Homo sapiens: one gene and its partners. The protein of the gene in region 2 purifies or fractionates together with the protein of the main gene of each other region. This does not show direct contact. Each region holds a gene or a part of one and is shown on either strand. Other genes may lie near its edges. The genes, in order: ECH1, ERLIN2, FKBP14, TUBA8, CACNA2D1, GSTM5 and CAT.

What was found.
Region 1: the proteins of ERLIN2 (region 2) and ECH1 purify together in Homo sapiens (co-immunoprecipitation; one large-scale study listed by IntAct). This does not show direct contact.
Region 3: the proteins of ERLIN2 (region 2) and FKBP14 purify together in Homo sapiens (affinity purification with mass spectrometry; 3 studies listed by BioGRID and IntAct, with this or other methods). This does not show direct contact.
Region 4: the proteins of ERLIN2 (region 2) and TUBA8 purify together in Homo sapiens (affinity purification with mass spectrometry; 2 studies listed by BioGRID and IntAct, with this or other methods). This does not show direct contact.
Region 5: the proteins of ERLIN2 (region 2) and CACNA2D1 purify together in Homo sapiens (affinity purification with mass spectrometry; 2 studies listed by BioGRID and IntAct, with this or other methods). This does not show direct contact.
Region 6: the proteins of ERLIN2 (region 2) and GSTM5 purify together in Homo sapiens (affinity purification with mass spectrometry; 3 studies listed by BioGRID and IntAct, with this or other methods). This does not show direct contact.
Region 7: the proteins of ERLIN2 (region 2) and CAT purify together in Homo sapiens (affinity purification with mass spectrometry, with the first as the bait; one large-scale study listed by BioGRID). This does not show direct contact.

The regions. Positions count from the first base shown.
Region 1 is NC_000019.10:38,825,295-38,828,794, forward strand, and holds part of ECH1 (delta(3,5)-Delta(2,4)-dienoyl-CoA isomerase, mitochondrial precursor), read right to left. Parts: intron 1-3,500. UniProt on the Homo sapiens protein: Isomerization of 3-trans,5-cis-dienoyl-CoA to 2-trans,4-trans-dienoyl-CoA.
Region 2 is NC_000008.11:37,756,278-37,758,922, reverse strand, and holds the end of ERLIN2 (erlin-2), read right to left. Parts: 3' UTR 501-2,645; downstream 1-500. UniProt on the Homo sapiens protein: Component of the ERLIN1/ERLIN2 complex which mediates the endoplasmic reticulum-associated degradation (ERAD) of inositol 1,4,5-trisphosphate receptors (IP3Rs) such as ITPR1.
Region 3 is NC_000007.14:30,013,395-30,016,702, reverse strand, and holds part of FKBP14 (peptidyl-prolyl cis-trans isomerase FKBP14 precursor), read left to right. Parts: intron 1-1,809; coding exon 1,810-1,968; 3' UTR 1,969-3,308. UniProt on the Homo sapiens protein: PPIase which accelerates the folding of proteins during protein synthesis. Has a preference for substrates containing 4-hydroxylproline modifications, including type III collagen. May also target type VI and type X collagens.
Region 4 is NC_000022.11:18,109,532-18,113,608, forward strand, and holds the start of TUBA8 (tubulin alpha-8 chain), read left to right. Parts: upstream 1-1,277; 5' UTR 1,278-1,334; coding exon 1,335-1,337; intron 1,338-4,077.
Region 5 is NC_000007.14:82,437,278-82,440,777, forward strand, and holds part of CACNA2D1 (voltage-dependent calcium channel subunit alpha-2/delta-1 isoform 1 preproprotein), read right to left. Parts: intron 1-3,500. UniProt on the Homo sapiens protein: The alpha-2/delta subunit of voltage-dependent calcium channels regulates calcium current density and activation/inactivation kinetics of the calcium channel. Plays an important role in excitation-contraction coupling.
Region 6 is NC_000001.11:109,715,251-109,718,768, reverse strand, and holds the end of GSTM5 (glutathione S-transferase Mu 5), read right to left. Parts: intron 1,433-3,518; coding exon 1,343-1,432; 3' UTR 501-1,342; downstream 1-500. UniProt on the Homo sapiens protein: Conjugation of reduced glutathione to a wide number of exogenous and endogenous hydrophobic electrophiles.
Region 7 is NC_000011.10:34,448,934-34,452,433, reverse strand, and holds part of CAT (catalase), read right to left. Parts: intron 3,243-3,500; coding exon 3,071-3,242; intron 1,447-3,070; coding exon 1,336-1,446; intron 358-1,335; coding exon 227-357; intron 1-226. UniProt on the Homo sapiens protein: Catalyzes the degradation of hydrogen peroxide (H(2)O(2)) generated by peroxisomal oxidases to water and oxygen, thereby protecting cells from the toxic effects of hydrogen peroxide.

The DNA of each region.
Region 1 (3,500 bases), on a different chromosome or scaffold from region 2:
CTGTGTTCTAGAAGGACTAAGGAGAATTAGAAAAAGCCCATGAATTATTCAATGATGTCCACCATAACTCAGGGAAAGGAAGAAAATCCTTCTGCCTTCCTCGAGCAGCTATAGGAGGCCTTAAGAAAATATACTCCCCGGTCACCCGAATCACTCAAGGGTCAATTGATTCTAAAAGATAAGTTTATTATCCAATCAGCCGCAGATATCAGGAGAAAGCTCCAAAAGCAAGCCCTGGGCCCTGAACAAAATTTGGAGGCATTATCAAAACCTGGCAACCTCAGTGTTCTATAATAGGGACCAAGAGGAACAGGCCCAAAAGGAAAAGTGAGATTGGAGAAAGGCCGCAGCCTTAGTTATGGCCCTCAGACTAACAAACCTTAGTGGTTCAGAGAGGACAGATAGTAGAGGCCAATCACCCGGTAGGGCTTGTTATCATGCGGTTTACTAGGACACTTTAAAAAAGATTGTCCAATGAGAAACAAGCTGCCCCCTCGTCCATGTCCACTATGCCGAGGCAATCACTGGAAGGTGCACTGCCCCAGCGGACGAAGGTTCCCTAGGTCAGAAGCCCCCAACCAGATGATCCAACAACAGGACAGAGGGTGCCCGGGGCAAGCGCCAGCTCATGTCATCACCCTCACTGAGCCCCGGGTACGTTTAACCATTGAGGGCCAGGAAACTGACTTCCTCCTGGACACTGGCGCGGCCTTCTCAGTGTTAATCTCCTGTCCTGGACGACTGTCCTCAAGGTCTGTTACCATCCGATGAATCCTGGGACAGCCTGTAACCAGGTATTTCTCCCACCTCTCAGTTGTAATTGGGAGACTTTGCTCTTTTCACATGCCTTTCTTATTATGCCTGAAAGTTCCACACCCTTATTAGGCAGGGACATATTAGCCAAGGCTGGAGCTATTATCTACATCAATATGGGGAACAAGTTACCCATTTGTTGTCCCCCTACTTGTGGAGGGAATCAACCCTGAAGTCTGGGCATTGGAAGGACAATTTGGAAGGGCAAAAAATGCCCGCCCATTACAAATCAGGTTAAAAGATCCCACTGCTTTTCCTTATCAAAGGCAATATCCCTTAAAGCCTGAAGCTCATAAACGATTACAGAATATTGTTAAACATTTAAAAGCTCCAGGCTTAGTAAGGAAATGCAGCAGTCCCTACAACACCCCAATTCTAGGAGTACAAAAACTAAATGGTCAGTGGAGACTAGTGCAAGATCTTAGACTCATCAATGAGGCAGTAATTTCTCTATATCCAGCTGTAACCAACACCTATACCCTGCTCTCTCAAATAACAGAGGCAGCAGAATGGTTCACAGTTCTAGACCTCAAGGATGCCTTCTTCTGTATTCCCCTACACTCTGACTCCCAGTTTCTCTTTGCCTTTGAGGATCCCACAGACCACACGTCCCAAATTATGTGGACGGTCTTGCCCCAAGGGTTTAGGGATAGGCCTCATCTGTTTGGTCAGGCACTGGCCCAAGATCTAGGCCACTTCTCAAGTCCAGGCACTCTGGTCCTTCAATATATGGATGATTTACTTTTGGCTCCCAGTTCAGAAGCCTCGAGCCAGCAGGCTACTCTAGATCTCTTGAACTTTCTCGCTAATCAAGGGTACAAGGTGTCTAGGTCAAAGGCCCAGCTTTGCCTACAGCAGGTCAAATATCTAGGCCTAATCTTAGCCAGAGGGACCAGGGCCCTCAGCAAGGATGGAGAGGGAGGACAGGGAGGAGAGGGAGAAGGAGGGGAAGGAGGGGAAGGAGGAAGGGAGGAGAGGGAGGGAGGGGAAGGAGGAAGGGAGGAGAGGGAGGGAGGGGAGGGAGAAAGGGGAGGGAAAGAAAGAAAGGGACCTGGGAATATGTTAATGGACAAAACAGAAAGAAATAGTTTACTGTCTGTCTTCCCCACTGAGTTGGGAACGCCATGACAACAGGGCCTGGGACTGTCCTAGTCAAGACTGGGTTCCCAGCACCAGGCTCTGGGCCCTGTGCAGAAATCAGTGTATGAAATATTTTGCTTCTGGTTCAGTCCTAAAGGGCCAACCCTCCCACGGACAACTACATACGCTGGCTGGACAAGAAACAAACAATTATCTGAAGGCACTGGGCAGATTCTGGAGGGAGTGACCACTTAGGAGAGTGGCAGAACACTCTCTCGGTGTTTTTGAAAATGGTTTTGAAAACTTTCAGCCTGAGGGCAGACTGAAATTGTGCTTGAAGAGCCACAGGATAGAGTCCAAGGTGACCAAAGCTGCCGGGAAGTGAGGGGGGATATTCCAAAGAGGGGAGAGCCAGAGCGAGGAGTCCCGAATTCTGTGTATCAACTCTGCCCTAATCTCTTGCTGGGAGATGTATGTTTTTGTTGTTGTTTTTGTTTTGAGATGGGTTCTTGCACTGTCACCCAGGCTGGGTGCAGTGGCACGACCACAGCTCACTGCAGTTTTGACCTCCCTGGTTCGAGCCATCCTCCCACCTCAGCCTCCAGAGTAGCTGGGAGTGTGGTCATTCATCACACCCAGCTAATTTTTGTTAGAGACAAGGTCTCAGTGTGTTGCCCTGGCTGAAGATTAGTTTTTAAATCTTTTGCTGGGGGTGCATGTATGGTCTGTAAATCAGCAAGAAGCCAGGCACAGTGGTTCACGCTTGTAGTCCCAGCACATTGGGAGGCCGAGTCAGGAGGATCGCTTGAGTTCAAGAGTTGAAGACCAGACTGGGCAACATAGCAAGACCTCATCTCTACAAAAAAATAAAAATAAAAACAGAAAAACCAAAAAAACTAATTCCAACTAAGCTACCAAAACACGAAACTCAACACTCTTTGGAACTATATGATAGAATCCAGAGTATCCACATCTTATTCCTATATCCCAATATCCAAGAAACAATCCAAACTAACTCAAAATACAAAGAAACAGGAAAGTGAAGCCGTTTTCTTTTTTTTGAGACAGAGTCTCGCTCTTGTCACCAAGGCTGGAGTGCAATGGCGTGATGTAGGCTCACTGCAACCTCTGCCTCCTGGGTTCAAGCGATTCTCCTGCCTCAGGCTCTCCAGCAGCTGGGATTACAGGCATGCACCACCACGCCGGGAAAATTTTTGTATTTTTAGTACAGACGGGGTTTCACCATGTTGGCCAGGCTAGTCTTGAACTCCTGACCTCAAGTGATCCACCCACCTCAGCTTCCCAAAGTGCTGGGATTACAGGCATGAGCCACTGAGCCCAGCCTGCCATTTCCAAGCGAAAAGATGATAAGGAGACTGACCCCAAGATGACCCAGATGTTGAGATTAGAAGATAAGGAGTTTTTGTTTTGTTTTTATTTTGTTTTTAGAGGGAGTCTCGCTATGTCACCCAGGCTGGAGTGCAGTGGCGCCATCTCGGCTCACTGCAACCTCTGCCTCCCAGGTTCACGCCATTCTCCTGCCTCAGCCTCCCGAGTAGCTGGGACTAAAGGTGCCCGCCACCATGCCTGGCTAATATTCTTTTTTT
Region 2 (2,645 bases):
GCATCCTCTACCTCCCAGGTTCAAGTGATTCTCCTGCCTTAGCCTCCCAAGTAGCTGGGATTTCAGGCATGCACCACCATGCCCGGTTAATTTTCTATTTTTAGTCGAGATGGGGTTTCTCTATGTTGGTCAGGCTGGTCTTGAACTCCCGACCTCAGGTGATCCACCCACCTCAGCCTCCCAAAGTGCTAGGATTACAGGTGTGAACCACCGTGCCTGGCTTCTTTTCTTTTCTTTTCTTTCTTTAAACCAGGTTATTTTCTACACAACATTTTTGTAGAGGTATGTATCCTCAATACTGTGTTTGCTGCATTGCAATGTCATTCCCTTCTTCTATGTGCTATCCCATTTGTAATCTTATTCCATTTTTTTTCACGTGTTTGGCTTTCTACTTAGTGGCTCCCATTTAATAGCTGTATGTTTTTTAGCCCGTTTCTCCAGATTGAAGTTTTTGAATACATACATGCAAGGTACAGTGTGAAAGCCCTTCGTATGCATTATTTCATATAAGCCATGCAACTCATTTTATTAATGAAGAAACTGAGGCTTAGAGAGGTCAAAAAACTTATTCAAGACCACACACCTAAGAAGTAGTAGAGCAGTGATTTGAACTTTGGCAGTCTAACTGCAGTAACTACACTCTTAACATAACTATTCAATTGTTAAGATCATATTATTTGTGTAGCAGGCTCTCAAACCAATAGAAAAAGCTTGGGATCCCTGTTAAAAAAAACCTGAGAAAGCCTGGGCTAGGGTTGCCGGACTTAACAAGTAAAAATACAGGATACCCAGTTAAATATGAATTACACATAAGCAACAAATACTTTGGTATGAGTATGTCTCATGCAGTGTTTAGGACACATAGTACTTAGACTAAAAATTGTACATTGTTGAAATTCATATTTAACTAGGTATCTTATGTTTTATCTGGCAACCCTAAGCTGGGCAGCTTTCCAGAGTAAAGACTGGGAGTTCGTCCACTGAACTGATATCAAAATGAATTTTGGTTCACTTGAAAATATCTTTGTCCTTTGGAGCAGAATTGCAGTGGTGTGTGAACTGTTTAAAATGATAAATCTCTATAGCACCTACCAAGAATTATGCCACGTTCACAAATTCTGTATCGATAATGGGGATAGATTTTCATCTGTTTATTTTTAGAGAGATCTTGTACTTAACTCACTAGTCTGGGATGTTTTATTTATGTCACCTAATATTAACTATTGCTAAATTTCACTTTAATAAAAAAGTAGATACAAAGACTCATTTTACTTAGCAAGACTGCAAATAAAACTAAGACATAAATTCACATGTTAGTATTGTCCAAAACAATTCCTCCAGCTATCAACCCACGGCAATCAATCCAGCAGTATCATTTATAGAATGATTACTAAAACAAGAATCATTTCTCAGTTACAAATGGGGTCATTAAGCCCTTGGGGCTCTTTGAAAGTAGAAGTAGTTTGCCTACTTAATCATCAGTCTACACAAAGGCAGAAATAAAAAGGAATGGAAATACAAACACAAAATGATTGGTTATTACCTGTTTTATAAGGAAACAAGAAAAAAAAAACAGTGGCTAGAAACAACAAAAAAGCAGTGGCTGGAACCCTACTGAATAGAGCTTAAAGAAGTACTGGTTACATTCACAGACACAGTAGCCACTAGCCAAGATATAGTTTATCTCCATCAAACTTAAATAGATAAAGTCAGTAAGTATGACCATCTTACTTTCACTATTTACGCTCTTTAAATAGTAAAGGTATCGGTTTGAAAGATACATAGAACCATAGGAACAGTGAATGATCATTTATAAAACAGCTCCTTTTCCTGAATCAATATATTGCTAAAATTCTTTCAGTAACCCTCCCTTTTTATATGATCACAGATCCCTCCACATCTATTTTATTTTAGTTATATAAAAATTATTAATAAACTTTGGTTTCCTTGCATTCGGTCCTTATATTTTAAAAAGTGATTAAAAACAGTACTGAATATGAATCACTTCTGCAAAGTTTAATGAGTGAGAAACATTCAACCAAGGTGATTTTTCCTTGGAAAACCCTACAAAAACTGAATTTTATAAACAGTTACTTATTTTGATAGATGTTCCATTTATAAATAGCAGCCATTACTTCACTGTCTACAAAATTGCAGGCTGTCACATTTTACATGTTTAGAATTCAAATGTTTTAAGATTAGATTTTCTAGTAAGAGTTAAAATAAAAACAAAGTTACACAGACAGGTTAGTTGTCCTATGCAAATAAAACAGCTGATTTTCATGATTTTGCTATTTAGACAGATAAGAGACAACCATTGGATTGACACTAATGTGTAGGATAACATATTTTTTGTTTAAAGAGGAAATGATAGAAACTTGGGGTGGGGCAGCTGCAGCAGGACTTGACTCTACTGAGGCTCTTCTGTGCTCATGGGACAAGCTATCGCAGGATGTTAGTACCGGAGAGGCCCTCAAGTTAAGACCTGAGCAAAGTGTGCTATTCAGAGAAGCTGAGCTATCCCTGCTCCCGGTTCTACTGTGGTGAATTGGTGTTTTCTGAGGTCTAGGCAACAAGAGCTCAGAGTAGAAGGAGTAGACATTTTCGGGAAGTGGGATGCTGGGCATGTCATGTTGCTCTAACAA
Region 3 (3,308 bases), on a different chromosome or scaffold from region 2:
GAAAATGGAGTCCGGGCATGGTGGCTCACACCTGTAATCCCAGCACTTTGGGAGGCCAAGGCAGGCAAATCTTCTGAGGTCAGGAGTTCGAGGCCAGCCTGGCCAACTTGGTGAAACCCTGTCTCTACTAAAAATACAAAAATTAGCCAGGCATGGTGGCAGGTGCCTGTAATCCCAGCTACTAGGGAGTCTGAGGCAGGTGAATCGCTTGAACCTGGGAGTTGGAAGTTGTAGTGGGCCGAGATCGTGCCACTATACTCCAGCCTGCGTGACAGAGCAAGACTCTATTTCAAAAAAAAAAGAAAAACAAAAAAACAAATGAAAATGGAAAATTGTAGTCTAGGCACTTATCAGACCTGACTTTCTGAGATTGAAAGGTTGTGATTAGACTCAATCTAATCACATGATCATAACCAAAACCCAAAAGACCCACTACTTGCAGACATTTATTCAAGTCAAAGATGCCACTATTTAATCTAGTTTTAAGAGAAGTGTCCATGGGGTGCAGTGGCTCATGCTTCTAATCCCAGCACTTTGGGAGGCTGAGGGGTTTAGATTGCTTGAGCCCAGGAGTTCAAGACCAGCCTGGGCAACATGGTGAAACCCCATCTCTACAAAAAATATAAAAGCCAGATGTGGTAGCACATGCCTGTAAGTCCCAGGTACGTGTGAGGCTGAGGTAGGAGGATTGCTTGAGCCTGGGAGGCAGAGGTTGCAGTGAGCTGAGATGGTGCCACTGCACTCCAGCCTGGGTGACAGAGCAAGATTCTGTCTAAAAGGCCGGGCGCGGTGGCTCACGCCTGTAATCCCAGCACTTTGGGAGGCCGAGGCGGGCAGATCACGAGGTCAGGAGATCGAGACCATCCTGGCTAACACGGTGAAACGCCGTCTCTACTAAAAATACAAAAAATTAGCTGGGCGTGGTGGCGGGCGCCTGTAGTCCCAGCTACTCGGGAGGCTGAGGCAGGAGAATGGCGTGAACCCGGGAGGCGGAGCTTGCAGTGAGCCGAGATTGCGCCACTGCACTCCAGCCTGGGCAACAGAGTGAGACTCCGTCTCAAAAAAAAAAAAAAAAAGATTCTGTCTAAAAAAAGAAAAGAAATGCCTAGTATTTAGATTCAGATTAAGAACAAGTAGTATGCTCTCATTGGGTATTCTCCAATAATATAAGCCCTATATGAGGATTGTATACATGACATAAGCTTTATCTCTGCCTTTGAGCAATATATATATAGAGAGAGCTATATATATATATATATTTTTAATTTTTTAATTTTTTATTTTTTTGACAGAGTCTCACTCTGTTGCCCAGGCTGGAGGGCAGCAGCGCAATCTCGATTCACTGCAACCTCTGCCTTCCAGGTTCAAGCGATTCAACTGCCTCAGCCTCCTGAATAGCTGGGATTACAGACGCATGCCATCATGCCTGGCTAACTTTTTTTTGTATTTTTAGTGGAGATGGGCTTTCATTATGTCGGCCAGGCTGATCTCCAACTCCTGACCTCAAGCAATCTTCCCACTTGGGCCTCCCAAAGTGCTGGGATAACAGGCATGAGCCACCACACCTGGCCCTGCCTTTGAGCAATATTTTGTGTCTCCACTTTAGCAGTTTAGCAACAGTTTTTTTAAGGGAAAAAGTTTCTATTATTTTTTAATTATCATTAAAACTATGTCATAAAATGGCTGTTTAGAAGGTATTATATTTAGTTAATGAACTAAATATAATAACAGTCCATGTCTGTGATATTGATTGGCTCAATGTGGGTATCTTATGAATCCAAGTTATTAATGGGATCTGTTATTTTGTAGGTTAAAGCATATTTAAAGAAGGAGTTTGAAAAACATGGTGCGGTGGTGAATGAAAGTCATCATGATGCTTTGGTGGAGGATATTTTTGATAAAGAAGATGAAGACAAAGATGGGTTTATATCTGCCAGAGAATTTACATATAAACACGATGAGTTATAGAGATACATCTACCCTTTTAATATAGCACTCATCTTTCAAGAGAGGGCAGTCATCTTTAAAGAACATTTTATTTTTATACAATGTTCTTTCTTGCTTTGTTTTTTATTTTTATATATTTTTTCTGACTCCTATTTAAAGAACCCCTTAGGTTTCTAAGTACCCATTTCTTTCTGATAAGTTATTGGGAAGAAAAAGCTAATTGGTCTTTGAATAGAAGACTTCTGGACAATTTTTCACTTTCACAGATATGAAGCTTTGTTTTACTTTCTCACTTATAAATTTAAAATGTTGCAACTGGGAATATACCACGACATGAGACCAGGTTATAGCACAAATTAGCACCCTATATTTCTGCTTCCCTCTATTTTCTCCAAGTTAGAGGTCAACATTTGAAAAGCCTTTTGCAATAGCCCAAGGCTTGCTATTTTCATGTTATAATGAAATAGTTTATGTGTAACTGGCTCTGAGTCTCTGCTTGAGGACCAGAGGAAAATGGTTGTTGGACCTGACTTGTTAATGGCTACTGCTTTACTAAGGAGATGTGCAATGCTGAAGTTAGAAACAAGGTTAATAGCCAGGCATGGTGGCTCATGCCTGTAATCCCAGCACTTTGGGAGGCTGAGGCGGGCGGATCACCTGAGGTTGGGAGTTCGAGACCAGCCTGACCAACACGGAGAAACCCTATCTCTACTAAAAATACAAAAGTAGCCGGGCGTGGTGATGCGTGCCTGTAATCCCAGCTACCCAGGAAGGCTGAGGCGGCAGAATCACTTGAACCCGGAGGCGGAGGTTGCGGTAAGCCGAGATCACCTCCAGCCTGGACACTCTGTCTCGAAAAAAAGAAAAGAAACACGGTTAATAACATATAAATATGTATGCATTGAGACATGCTACCTAGGACTTAAGCTGATGAAGCTTGGCTCCTAGTGATTGGTGGCCTATTATGATAAATAGGACAAATCATTTATGTGTGAGTTTCTTTGTAATAAAATGTATCAATATGTTATAGATGAGGTAGAAAGTTATATTTATATTCAATATTTACTTCTTAAGGCTAGCGGAATATCCTTCCTGGTTCTTTAATGGGTAGTCTATAGTATATTATACTACAATAACATTGTATCATAAGATAAAGTAGTAAACCAGTCTACATTTTCCCATTTCTGTCTCATCAAAAACTGAAGTTAGCTGGGTGTGGTGGCTCATGCCTGTAATCCCAGCACTTTGGGGGCCAAGGAGGGTGGATCACTTGAGATCAGGAGTTCAAGACCAGCCTGGCCAACATGGTGAAACCTTGTCTCTACTAAAAATACAAAAATTAGCCAGGCGTGGTGGTGCAC
Region 4 (4,077 bases), on a different chromosome or scaffold from region 2:
GGTAAAGCACTGTGTTTGGTACTCTCTCAAATGCAAAGATGATTACGACACATGTACTATCGTTTATGAATGGGTGGCCAACAGAACAGATTGCCGCATAGGTAAGCAGAAATCTGCTCTCATTCTCTATTGGCCACAAGCAGGCATGTCTTAGGAGCAGAAGGGTAGGAAGATCTCTAACTGTGCTTGGAAACTTGGGGAGTTACCACGTCTGGCTAAAGTGGTATTGTCTTAAGGAAAACCTATGAATTTGCCTGCGTTGGCTTGGTGCTGAGGAAAGTGGAAGAGAGAGGCTGGGGTACACCTTTCAACATGAATGGAACTGACCACTGGAGGGAAAGAACAAGAAACAGCAGTGAGAACAAGGAACAAAGACCATCCAGCCCCTCACCCACCTGGGGGGAAGTGAGGGGAGATGGGCAGGGTGACAACGTGGCCAACATCTAAAGTGTGAAGAGGGGCTTTTACCAAGTGCCCACCCCTTCCCGAGCAGGGGGCAACCAACAGCATCTGGCGGGTCTTACTACTGGGCAGAGGCAGGGGAACCCTGGTATGAGTTCTGGATTACATAGGAGATGTGACTTGGACACGTTTGGGGCTTAAAAGTAGGAAGGGATCAAGGGGGGAGATTTGAAAATCCCGGTGGAGGTGCGAGGTATCCGGGGAGAGGGTAAAAACGGGAACAGTCTTCAGCACCTGCCTGTACCAGGAGCTCTGTGTATGCCATCTCATTTCCGTCTCCAGCAACCAGGCGGGCCTTGGCGGCAGGAGGCACAGGCTTTGGGAGCAGAGGCCCTGCAGCTTGCCAAGCACACACGGCCCTAGGGCGCCCAGCTGAGACGGCACCTTGGCACCCGGGCCCGCTGCAGCCCGCTCCGGTCAGCTGCACCCCAGTCAGGAGCCTTTCCAGCGGGTCGGAGGAGAACGGAAGTTTGGGGAGACCCGCGCGATTCGCCTGGCTGCATTTTACATTTCTTTCTCCGGCAGCTGGGGTCACGAAGGCTGCTCTCGCCGGCGGTGTTGGAACGTGGACACGTGCGCTTTGGTAATAGGGCAGCCTCCCCCGCGGGCGCAGTCCCCGCTGCGAGCGCCCCCGGCTGCTGAGGCGGGACCGAGGACCCGGAGATTTGAGCCGCGGGTGGGCGGGGAGGGGCCTTTGTGACCTGCCCGCCCCTCCCCGGCACTGTGATGCCGGGGGGCAGCTGCGGGCCCGGCGCGCCTGTCCCCGGCGTCCCCCCCTCCCGGTGTGTCACAACGGCGGAGGCGGCTGTATCTGGAGCAGTCGGGGCGGGCAGGCCCAGCTGAGAGGTGCGCGGGCGAGGACAGCGGCAGCGATGGTGAGGCTTCCCGGGGCCAGGCGGGCTGCGGGCGCGCGGCAGGCGTAGGACCGAGAGCCGAGTCTACGCGGAGGCGCACGGACCCGTCTTCCTGGAGCCGCAGGGCTCAAGGCCTTCTGGGGGTGGCAGTTCAGGGTCGAGGAGTCCGCACCCTCGGGCGGGAACACCCGGTGCCCTTTATCGTATGGGGGAAATAGAGACCAGGGGCCAGTTGTTCCTTAAAGGGACCTAAGGGAGCTTTGCGTGCAGACGAGGGGGAGGGAGGCCCTGGGGAGCCCGACGGAGAAGGGGGCGAGATTCTGGGGTCCCCAGATGGGCAGCCTGTGGACAGAGTGGAGAGAAGGGCGAGTCCGGGGATTCTGGATGGGTGGTCTGGGCCGGGGCGACTGGGGGGCCAGATGCAGTCACGTCTCCGAACCCAGCCTAATGTGACAGGGCCCGGAATGTGACAGAGGACCTAGGGCGCCACGGTCCCCCCACGCGTGGAGGTCTTTCTCGCAAGCCTGGCCAGCGGCTTGGGTTTGCTGCACGCACAGCCCCAGCGCGGCGGGGTCCTCCGGGCGCACTCAGCAGCTCCCAAGTCTTTCCAGCGGTCAGAGTCGAAGGACTTTGGGAGTAAGAAGTCTCTGCTTCCAAAGGCCAGGGGACCTTCGACCTGTTTCCTACCCTGGCTTAGGGGGATCGCGGCTGCTCCCTTCCCTGCCCCCGCCCCTGGATCTTACTGAGGGGCGGCTGCAAACACTCAGTTCCTCTTTCTAGGGTCCCCCTCTCCGCCCCCAGTGCCCCTGGTGGTTAACATTTGCCCCCAGTCCACTTTCCCAAAGCCCAGAATCCCAGGAATCCCTCCTGGACCCCTGATCTTTCAGCAGTAGGGAGATGGGCTGGAAAGATTGGGGGCAGAGTGAGGGCAGAATAAGCCTATGTCATGGCCAAGGTCGGGTTCCCTGGGCAGGCTTGCTCCAGGTGTCAGTGATCCAGAAAGCAGGCGAGAACCCCCTCCGCCCCGCCCTGTTACGTTTGGCCCGTGCCCAGGGCCTCCTGGCTCCCCCGGAGCTCTAGCCTTCCAGCTTCAGTTTTGTCAGCACCCTCCCTCCTCCTAGCGGGCTCCCAGACACCCCTGGGAACTGAAAGAACTTGGGAATATTAGGGAGGGTGGCCACAGGAACCTATTTCTGCCTGAGGACCCTGGTATGAGGCCACACAAAGGGCCCGGAGCTGCCAGTTCAGAATTTTGACTCCTGGCTCTGCAGCTAGCTGTGTGACTTCAGGAAGGTCACTTAACCTCTCTGGATGTGTTTGTTTTACCTGCGAAATGAAGAGGGTTATAATTCAAATTTCCAAGACTCCACTTAGATTTCATTATTTTTAAACTTTTTATGGTAGGGAATTTCAAACATATGCAAACGGAGAGCAAATGGTATAATTAGCGATTATATACATCATCTAAGTTCAATAATTACCAACTTCTGACCTGTCTCACTTCATTTATTCCCTCCCTCCATAATTTTGAAGCAAATGCTAGGCTGCATACTCTAGAATTGATATTTAATATTTATAATATCTAGCAGGTAGCTAGTGTTTTAGGATTTTCCAAGTGCTTCCCTTGCATGCTTTAATTTGGATCTGAATGCCATTGTGGTACAGAGTGGAGCCCAGAGGATGTTTACAGGGGCGTGTCGAGGATCTTAACCCAGCCCTGTGCACAAGCTTGAATGTGTGATCCACAGACGTGTTTCTGACAATGCCTGGTAAATCAACAATTCAAACAGCAAAACTTTATTTTGAACGTGCTTAAGAATTTGGGTGTTTAGCTGAAAACCTATGGTTAAATATTTTGAAATGCGACCACCTTTCATTTATTTTGAAACACTCAATTTTGTCTAGTAGGTTCTATCTAGAACATTTAACTTGTGTGCGTTGCACTGTCTTGATGGCTAATATTTTTTGTTGAACATTTTACACTCACAGAAACTTTTAAAATATCATTTGGCTCATTTGTAAAAGGCTAAAATGACACATCTATAAACCTAGACCCCTAGAATCTCACCCTTACAAAAATGACTGTATTTCTTCTAAGGATTAAGTTTCAGGCTGCTGTCCTGTCCCCTTCACTTCCCTCCCTGGTGGGGGTTTGGGGGAGGTGACCTTGGTGTTAAGGAGAATTCGATTTGGAATTTCTGTAGGCTCTGGGCAAGAAAAGTGTAACTAATCCTTAAGTGTATTTTTAAATGCATTTCTCTAGCTGCTAGGCAGATGAGCATTTTTCCTCTGTGAACTTACCCCCAACCCCTTCTCCCCAGCTACCCACTGCACGGTACCACCAATACCCTTTAGCATTTCTGTCCTGGAGCCTAAAGTGACACAGCTGGTAAGAAGCTGCGTAGGGGCTGGAGTTTACATCTGCTGGGCACCAGAGCCTCTGTCCTGAGCCACCTGCCCGTGCTGGGACCGGCAGGCTACTCCCACAGCAGACCATTCCCATCCATTCCCAGTGTTCTAGCACGCAGCTCTCTGGGAACTCAGACTATGACACCTTTTTTGGGAAGTGGTATGGAGAATCCTGGCCAGGTGCCCTAAGCCAAGCCCATGCCAATGATACCAGGGCACAGAGAAGTTTTCTGTGGTTTATGGGGAGGTGGGAACATCTGCAACACGGCTTCTTTAACTCCATTCCGTTAGGACTGGAGAGCACGAAGGAGCCCGTCTCCCTGCAAAAATGGGCAGTTAGAGGGTTCTGGGG
Region 5 (3,500 bases), on a different chromosome or scaffold from region 2:
ATAACATTGGAATTGCTTTCCATCATTTGCCAGAAGACCACCATAGCGTATTTTTAATTACACAGAAAAAAAGAGCTTCAAATAGACAGTAAGATTATCCCCAAATCTGAAGCATTTAAAATGGCCAGCACCATTATTTTCTACTGCCACCAGTTCAAGTTTTTCTTCCATTTATGATACAGAATTTTAAATGTATCCTAATTTTTTAAATCCACAGAGCATATGGTTAAAAAAAATCAGCAGAAGCAAATGTTAAAATAACATTTAGCCAGAAATATCCCACATTCATATTCAAAGAGAACTTCAAATATTGCTTTATATATAACAGCCTAATTCTGAATTATTGAAATTAACTATAAAAAGTGTGCCGGTTTGTTGAGGCCACAAAGTCAATCTTTTCCTCGTTCATAACCTGTACAAACAAGTGGCAAAATATAAAGGAGCAATGACCGCTTTCTTTACTCATTTTTAAAAACTGCTAAGAGTAGCTGATTCTATGTACTGAATTACTACAAAAGATGTAAAGCCTACAAAGAAGGGATATTTAAGAGCTTATATTTTACAAATAAAAATTTTAAACCTGTGCACATTTGCCTTCATTCCTAAAATATCACACCACCAAATATGTTTAATTCTAAATTTCAAAGTATATCTTATCTAAATGAAAGAAATAAAACTGCTTAGTATGTAAAGAACTTTTAATAGGTGCCAACATTTCAAATGGTATAGTTTCTTTCTCACACTTGTTTAAAAGACAGCAAAACTGTCTTTAGAATCACTTTTTTAATTACTTGTCAATTATGTTAGTAACCCGTCTCTATAGGACTTGAGCATTTTCAGGCTGCTTGTGTATGCAATATCTCATTTAATTGTCTTGGCAAATCATTCTTAAATGCTGGTGTTATTAAGTTAGATTTAATCCCTGAAAACAGTTGTGGACTGACAGAAGACCTAAGGTATGCACACTTGTTAATAAACTTACCTTACTGAGGTTTTTCTACTCTGTCAATCCACTTAAAGTTTTAAAAATATGTATGGACATACACACGTATATATGTGTATTTGCATATACATAAAATACTATCTATTAAATAGAATACTATATAGTGACACAAACTAGGAAAGTTATCTAATTATACGATGTTAATATTTTGGACTCTCAAGGAAAAGGTAGTAACATAGTATTTTTTCACAAAGTGCTGCCACTTTTACTTAATTGACATTGAGGTCAATTGCCTTTTTCTTTCAACTCTGTAAACAACACTACGCAATCGTTTACATGTTTCAGTGCACATACAAAAAAATGAATCCTGTGTAAGCTACATGGTTGGCCATCACAGCCCATTCCTAGTTTACTGGAAAGCAACTGTATGAAAGCCTTGGGAACAGTCGTGGTACTGCTCACAGATAGTTCATGAAAAGAAAGACTGGTTGACACAGTTAGTGACACAGTGCTTGATGCACACTGTAAGCCTTAAGTAAATGTGGAGGCGATATAATAGAACAAAGTTTGTTCCCCATGGAAAGCAGCTGACCTGCTTTTTGAAACACTACCACAGACAGCTCTTTTAATAGAAATAATGGACCGTTGTCATTTTAATAACAATAAAATGTTACTTTTTTGAAATACTGAAATTCTGATTTTTTTCCCAAAATGTTATGTATACTTACGTTAGAAATGCTTATGTCCATACATATAAGACATTAAATGAGATCAACAAATTGCATGATTTGCCTAAGATATGTTTCATTTTACCCATTTAAATCTCCAATTTAAAGTTATAAATAGCTTGAAGACATGTGCTAGGAAATTCTTGGAAACTTGCATCTATATTGAGAAATAGGGAAATCAAGAGAAACCTTAAGAGGTGCTTTATATAATGATACTCCAGAGAATATGTAAATTATATAGTTTGTTATGAGCACTATTGTAAAAATTATTTGTAAAATTTCTCAATGCATTATTGTTTATGAATATATACTCCTATATATACTAAATTTTAGCACAATAATAATTTCCATATGTTATGTTTTTGTAAAAATTTACTATGTGTAAACCCTAGAAAGAAGAGTATTTTATTGTTAGTTTTATCAATGTTGGAGAAATAACAGAAAGATGTCTACACAGTCAGTTTGTTGTGAAGAAAACAACTGTAAAGCTCTTATCTATTGTCAAAATGAACCACCTACTTTATATTCAAATTTTATGTATATTTATTAAATTAAATTAATGAAAGCCATGGGAGGGGGAGATAATAAAGGCACATTTCATTTCCCTTTAATAAACCATAATATGCTTAGATTCTTGTATTTTCTTACATTTTTTTCAAAAATTATATCCATTTCAGTCTGCTTAATTTTCATTCAAATGCCAATCCAAATAGCTACACATATAGCTATGTGTAACATTAATAAATTTAACATAATATTACTACTTACGTGGAAAAATATATCTATTGTTGCATATTTTAAAACATACATCTGTGGAATAGTAAATGTTATATGGTTAAGCCGATGAGAACAAAATTAAAGACTTGAGAAAAGTTTATTAATGTTCACTGTTTCAGGTTTTATTTTACATTTAATATTTTATCTCATAATTGATCATATGGCACATTTCCTTGTGTATGTAAAATGTAAACAGAAACTGCTGACTTCAAGTGAGAATAATTATGTCACTTATAATGCATGGAACAGATATCCATTACAATATCCTGACATACAAAATTTCTCCTTTATAGCCTTAAATACAAATTTCTCTAATAACAGGAAAAAAAAATATCCTAAGTAATTAAAGCCAAAAGTACTATACTTCTATGAGAATTTATGCTTATTTCCTGTGGATATCCACAATTCTTAGTTTTATATTTATACCATTGTACACTTTATATTAAAATCCCTGTATACCAATAGGCTCTCAGCCAATTATTGTAGACTGACTGGCATTTTGATGTGACTGAGATAAAAGTTTGATATTAACAGTTATAACTATATATTTTTTAATTGCATTTGTAAATAGATTCTAAAATTAAGGACAAATTTAAATTACCATTATAATACTGGCTATCACACATGTAATTCTAAATATTAAAATAGAAGTCTTTTAACATGTGACAAGAAATTATTTCTAGAAAAACGGACAACTACCCTTTTTGAAAGCTACATTTTAAAAATACCAATACGACATGTGCATACTATAGCATAAAAATGATATATTTTCCATTTATATATCAACCAATACACATTATGTGGCTGCTACCATATCATGTATTTATGTTTCACACCTTAGGGAGACAAACATTTCCAAAAGAAACACCTAACCCAGAGAAATAATCATATCAAAATTTCCTTGTCTGAAAAACATCTATTTTAGTGTTAACTCTTAGAACAGGTTAACTACTACTTTAATCCAAAAGAAAATTTATATTAGAATGTATGTTAAACAGGAGAGCAAAAAATGAAAGAAGATACTTAACTGACACATCATTTGTTTTACCATA
Region 6 (3,518 bases), on a different chromosome or scaffold from region 2:
AAGGCCCAACTCCACTATCCAGCCACTGTTGGAGGAACCTGCTCATCAGATGGTTATCCAATGAGTCCTGCTCCTTTGCAGATGACTTCATATAAAATACTGACACCTGCTGACCACACAGATTGCTACTGTGTGACCCAACAAACCAGGCTGCCCCATCTCAGGTTAAGCTATTCAAAGGACAGCTAGCAGCTATTAAAGCTGAAGTTACAGAGAGCTGCTGGCTCATTCTCTAAGACACGTACATGTAAAATCTTCTGAACGTTATCCTATATCTTCTCTGGTTAATACAACTATATCCAGAGCTCTAAATCCCAATAATGACTGTACAGGTTGGCAGAATCTTCCCTTGAGGGAATTCTTTCAAATTTTCACATGTGTTAAACATTTACTGTATTTCAGGAACTGTGAATGATACTCGAGGTAAAAAGTTCAGTAAGACATGGCTTTTCTCTTCAATAAATTTATGATTGAGTTTGGGTGAAAAACAAGTACCATGATTACAATACGGTGGGATACGTTTTATTGAGAAGTGTCATGACGAAGGATATCTAGATCAGGGAAGTCTATCAGGACAGGGTGAAAGAAGGCAGTCTGCCTGGGAGCTGCTCAGCCCCCTTCCCCATCAGCCTAGCCCCTCTTTGAACCATGCCAGTTCTAGACGGCCTACAGGAGCGCGAATGAGTGAGGAACTTGGCACAGAGCACCTTTCTGTAGTAATCCCCACAGTGAGGAACAGAGGGATGTGGCTAGAGGGCAGAAATGACCAAGGAAATTTATGAACCTGCCTGATCACCACCCCCAACACACACACACACACACCCATCCACTAAGCTCTGGCTGTGGACAACAGAAGACAAAAAACCACCCACAATTCGAGCACAGTCCTGAGTCAAGGGAGCCTCAGGGAATAAGACAAGACATGGCAGGCATGGTTCAGGCTTTACTGGGCATCACACGGAGCTGGGGTAGGGACCCAGCAAAGGGAGCAGGGCATACAGATGGTCTTTGAGGACAGTGCTAGGGAGCTCAGAGATCAGTCTGGCTTCTCAAAGAAGAGAAAAGCACTGACAGGAAAAGCAGTCAGGTTGGCGTTAGTGCAGGGAAAGGAAGACGTTAGGAGGGGGACTTTGATGGAGGACAGTGGGGAGCTGAAGCTTTAAAGAGCCTCGATGCGGGGAGGGATGATGTTAGAAGAAAGGAAGCCAATGAGGCCTTGGGGAAGAGAAGAGAGTAGAAAGAAGGAAAAAGGAAGAAGGCAGGTCCAGGGAGTCAGGCTGTCCTCCAGGGTCGCAGGCAGCAAGGTTGGCTCCTCCCTCCCATCTTCTGGCATCACTGGGCCCTATTTGCTGTTCCATGTAGCTGACTTTCCAAACAAAAGACCTCGGAGGAATTGGCTGGACTTCATGTAGGCAGAGATCTTCTTCAAACCCTGAGGGCGGGAAGAAGGGGCCAGAGCCAGGTCTGCTGTCTAGAAGGGCTCAAGTAGCTTTGCTGCAGGCACAGCAGGTCAGGGCCCTGGCCACAGCCTTTCCATGTGGGCTCAAGTGCTGGAGCATCACACGGTCTCTTAGGTCCCCAGCTCTTCTAAGTTAACTCTTCCAACTTCCTTTAAGTAATGTTATACCATAATAACAGCTACCATTTACGAAAGATCTACACTGTGCTGGGTGCTTTATATCCAACAGAAATTACAACACAGGCTTAGAAAATCCACTCGACTACCCTCCATGGTCAGTTCTATTATCACCGTTTCTCATATAGAAGAACAGAAGTTCAGCAACTTCCTCACACTCAAATAGCTAGTAAGTGGGACAGGGCTGGAATATAGCCTGGTTCTGTCTTCAGTTCTAGCATGTTTTTGCCAAATTCTCCTCCTCTTCCACCCAGCCACACCCCATGCCAGATCCTGTCACTCCTTGTCGGCACAAACATTCTCCTTTTTCACAGGGAGGTTCTTGGCTTGCCTAGGATTGCACACACAGAAAGGACCTCCAGCAGAACAAAGGGGCTCAGAACACACCTGTGCAGCCAAGAAGAGAGCACAGATCTCACCCAATGACTTAGCAAAACCTGGATGAAACTGAATAGGGTAAGGGTGAACCACCAAAGGAAGGCCAGACCAGGCTCTAATCATTCCCATTAAAGCATAAAGTCCAAACTTCTCCACCTGGTACCTGAGCTAAATCTCCCTATGTCCCTGTGCCCCCATCACATCTCCAGCCCTACTACTGCTAGCCAGGCCACATGACACTCAGGTGTGCTGCACACAATCTTACCAGGATTCAATGACCATGTAACTTCTAAAGAATTCAAAGAGATCCAGGGCTCCCTCTCCCCAAAGGGCCAGGGCCAGGCCCAGGCAGGCTCCATGCCCCAGCCCTCGGCTGTTCCCCACCGCTCCCCTCCCACCACCTCTTACATAACCCCAAGGCTGCTCAGGCTGGACCAGAACCAGAGCTGATGGGAACTAGCTGAGCAAGCAGATTTCTTGATGGGGAGTGGGAAAGGGAAACAGATTCTAGGCTCAGAAGCCTGTTGGACTAATGCCTCAAATCCCCAAATCTGTACTAAAGTAGGATTTGCTGCTCTCAAACAACTTCAACACAGGTGAGGGATGGTTCCCCGTGAGTGAGGGGCAGGCCCCAGGCCCGGTACCCAGGTGGTGCCACACACACCTCACAGGCTGCTCTGCCTGCAGGCCTCTCACTGCACTCATTTCCAGGATGGGGCAGTCATCTATGCAACTCCCACTGTGCCTCACACCCTGCCTCATGCAGAGGAGAAGGTCGGTGAATAGGAGTAAAATCAGTGTGCTACTCATCTCACAGGGGGAAGACGTGGAACATTGGAGGGAAAAAAAGAGAGGAAGAAAGATAAAGAAGGAGAGTGCCCCAGCACAGAGCACTTCAACACACACTGCTTCAACAGGGGCACCCACATATGTACCCTAATCCAGCTCCAGCCACAGCTCCGGATCTCAGGATTTTCCACATGGGGGTCCGATCATGCAAAGCTTCTGGGGGTGGCTATGAATACTGCCTGCAGGTTTAGTACTCAACATCAATGCCACTGTGTGTCAGTCCTACTATTGCCAGCTGCATCCGTGGTCCTGAAGTGCTCTGCCTCTTTCAAAGTGTTCTGGGCTGTGAAACCCAGGCTGGATGAGGCCTGAGGCTTCTCCTTTTGTCACAAATGGGAGAGCCCTGACTGCCACCCATAGATCCAGAGGCTCACAGGGAGCCCAGCACAGCCTCCACTGGCTCTGGGACCCTGAGCAAAGGACTGACCCTCTCATTCTCAGTTTTCTTATCTCTAAAATGGGCAAGATAATTCTGTCACCCTGTAGGAATGTTGGAAATTTCAAATTCTACACGATAGGTATAATGTGCTGGGCATGATTCCTGGCATGAAGCCCGTACTCAATACATACGAGTTATTCTTTGTGTAGCTCCAGGACTGGGAAAGCATCTGAAAGGAGAGAAAGGAACAAGGGGCATCAAAGAGAAAGGAGGATG
Region 7 (3,500 bases), on a different chromosome or scaffold from region 2:
CACTTCCCATTAAGTCAATCTGTCTTAAAATGACAAATCTAAGACCAATGGTAACTGTTCTTACTTTATCTTATTAAATACAGAAAAATGTGTTGAAAAAAGTAGTCCAGACAACTCGCATTCTTTTCTTTCTGCCTTTCCCACGGCTTCTCCTCAAATGCCAACCTATTTGAAATCAATTTAAGTCAACAAACATTTGTTGAGTGCAAAATACTCTATTACCTACCAATATGGGATCCCTGATGAAGAAAATGGGGGTGTTATTTCCAACGAGATCCCAGTTACCATCTTCTGTGTAAAATTTCACTGCAAACCCACGAGGGTCCCGAACTGTGTCAGCTGAACCCGATTCTCCAGCTACAATATTCAAATGGAAACAGGAAGCATAAGCCACAGCACTTTGCATCCAAGAAGCCTGGAGACATAAAGAAGCACCTGGATCCATCCTTTCTAATCCACTTCCAAGAACTAAATTAGGTATTTAAGTGCCCGGGTTATTATTTCTACCCACCAGCTAATTCAGTCCACAAATCAAACAAAATAATTAATTGAGAGCAATAAGAGAACACATGTAATAACAGCTGACAATGTCATTCATTTACCATAATAAGATAACTTTGTTCAAACAGGTAATTGAACTTTTAATTAAAATAAGGGAAGAAAATAATTATGAGGCTTAAAGTAGTGACAAACAGAATAAGTGAGTTGTCAAAATGATGAGGTTAACATTAAGAAAATGAGTTAAAATATTGGTTCTTAGTTCTTAATTTCATTTATTTTTACATTCCACAGTATTTTTAAAATGCAGAGACTGACACAGAAACGGAACTAGTGAAGCACTAGGTATGTTGAAATATAGTATGATAGATCTAATACTATCTCTGTAACGTGAGAAACATCACTTAGCCTCTCAAAAATAAAAAGAATCCCACTCTGCAAAGTAGATCTACAAATCAGAGATTATATCTGTAAAGCACCTAACCACAGTTGGCACAGAATTAATTCTCAATAAAGGTCAGCTGTAGGCATAGTTATTAAATAAGATTTCCACTCTATTCTTCTGTTAGAGGCAACCACTTTTAGGAAAGCTCTTTCCAAATGTCACAGAATTGCAGAGGTAGCCTCTGTGTAAGTGTGATTTCCTAAGACCTCAACAAACAGAAATACAAGTAACTTCCTATGTGTCTCCAAATATGTCTTCTACTGTAAAACCTTGACATAATTTGGAGAAGTGCTTGCTTCCTATTTTCTAATAACTTTTTCTTTAAGTTATAAACATCCCCAAAAGGTGAAGTTGAGTTAAGCCATACCAATCACGCCAATAAACCAACTTACCAACAGTGGAGAACCGAACTGCGATGGGAGTCTTCTTTCCAATATGCTCAAATACCTTTGCCTTGGAGTATTTGGTAATGTCATGTGTGACCTCAAAGTAGCCAAAGGCCCCTAACGAGAAAGACACAGAAATCCTTACCATGAGACCATTACTCAGACATTCAGGTCCTCAACAGGCACCTGGGTGACAAGAGAAAATGATGGTTAGCACCAGCCTTCTGGGAGCTTCCAGTATGTTGGAGGAAGGGGAAATGCCCAAACACAAAATAAAGAGGGTGAAATGCAAAGCCCTATTCTATCATTCAGTGCTAAGTCGAATGCCACATAGCTGGAGCCAAGAGAAGGAGGTGAGTGAGGCTAGAAGTCGTCAAGGTTGGCCCAAGGACACAGGGTCTCAGAGGGGCCTGAAGTACAGGTAGGACCTATGAGAGAAAGTGAAGAACAGAGAGAAGAGGAGATGAAAACATAAGAGAAAGAATCTTTTCAACACTTAGCAACGATGATACAAAGCAAGCAATAAACTAAACAAGTCAAGATGGAAAAATACACACAAACCACTGGAGAAGATGGGGAGAAACCTTATCCAGGAAGAAGAGATGAAGAAATGCAGAAGTCCTAACTGGAAGTCCAAGTCAGCAAGCTAAGAGAAAAACTTCCTTTCTGTGGAGCTCTTTTTCCAACTGAGTTTTTCACTTTCTTTCAAATACCACCCCCATCTTTTGTGTCTGATATAACAGCGATAAAGAAAGTTTTACAGAAATTGTTGGAAAAAAGGAAAGGAAAAATCATCACAAACCCACCACCCTAACATAACTACCCCAAATTTTGCAGCTCATTCCAGTAATTACCCAGTAAGTACATCATTTAAACTTAGTTGCAATTGCAGTGCATGTGTCTATGTCTGTATTTCTGTACAGCAGGTCCTCAAACAACATTGTTTTGTTCAACGTTGTTTCATTATAACGTTGATGAGAAAAAAATCTATTCCTAGCTGAGGCCACCATCTGTGTGGAGTCTGCATGTTCTCCCCATGTCTAGATAGGTTTTCTCCTGGTACTCCAGCTTCCCCCCACATCCCAAAGATGTGCGTGTTAGGTGAACTGGCATGTCTGAATGGTCCCAGTGTGAGTCCACCCTGCAATGGACAGCATCCTGTCCAGGGCTGGCTCTTGCCTTGTACCCCAACCTGCCAGGACAGGCTCTGGCCTCCCACCACCTTGAACTGGAATAAGCTAGTAAATAACTATCTTATTTTACTAATCTTTCTTAAAGGTATGTATGGCTCACATTTATTTCAATGTTTAATATAAGAGGTATTTTGAGTCTCTATTTAGAAGTTTGATGATGTTTTATCAATCAGAAATATGCCATAGGAACTTAACTCTTGCTTACGTCAATTAGCCTATCATAAAATTGGTTTCATTACATGTCGTTTAAAGTCAAAGTTTCCAAGAACCTATTGATGTTAAGTGAGGACTTATTGTATTTTTATTCCTTCAATGATGGGAGAAATGGAAGACTGCTATTTTTAAAAGAAACTATTTTATATATAATGTTTAACCTGAGGAAATAACCATCATTTATTTACTAATTTCCCTACTGCTGGATGTTTTTCCTTTCTCCCACAAATGGAGATTTGACACTTGTGTTAAAGGTCTTCCAATCCTTTGGGAAATAACACTTGACCCAGGTGCTGTGAAACAATCTTTTTACAGCAAATAAACACAGCACTTACCTGCTCCTTTAGCATGCACAACTCTCTCAGGAATTCTCTCTCGGTCAAAATGAGCCATTTCATCAGTGAAAACCACATCCTGAACAAGAAGGGGCCCACGGGGCCCTACTGTAATAACATTAAGTTTGTCTCCTACTGGGTTACCAGCTCCAGTGGTCAGGACATCAGCTTTCTACAGGAACACAGAAAGAAAGTGCAGGAGAGTTAGCACAATCAAACCTTTCATTTACACTGTCACGGGTACATAGCTTTGCAATGTTTATACCATCTGCCCTCTTTTTTAATTTCCTGTGTCCAAAGTACTAAAATCTGACAGGATGGGCCATTGCCTGAAACTTTTAGTGATGCCCCAGAAACCCTTGACAAATCTCAACACTAATCTGCTAAGAAACTTGCTCTGAAGAGCAGAAAGATGATTTTGGAGCCTGAA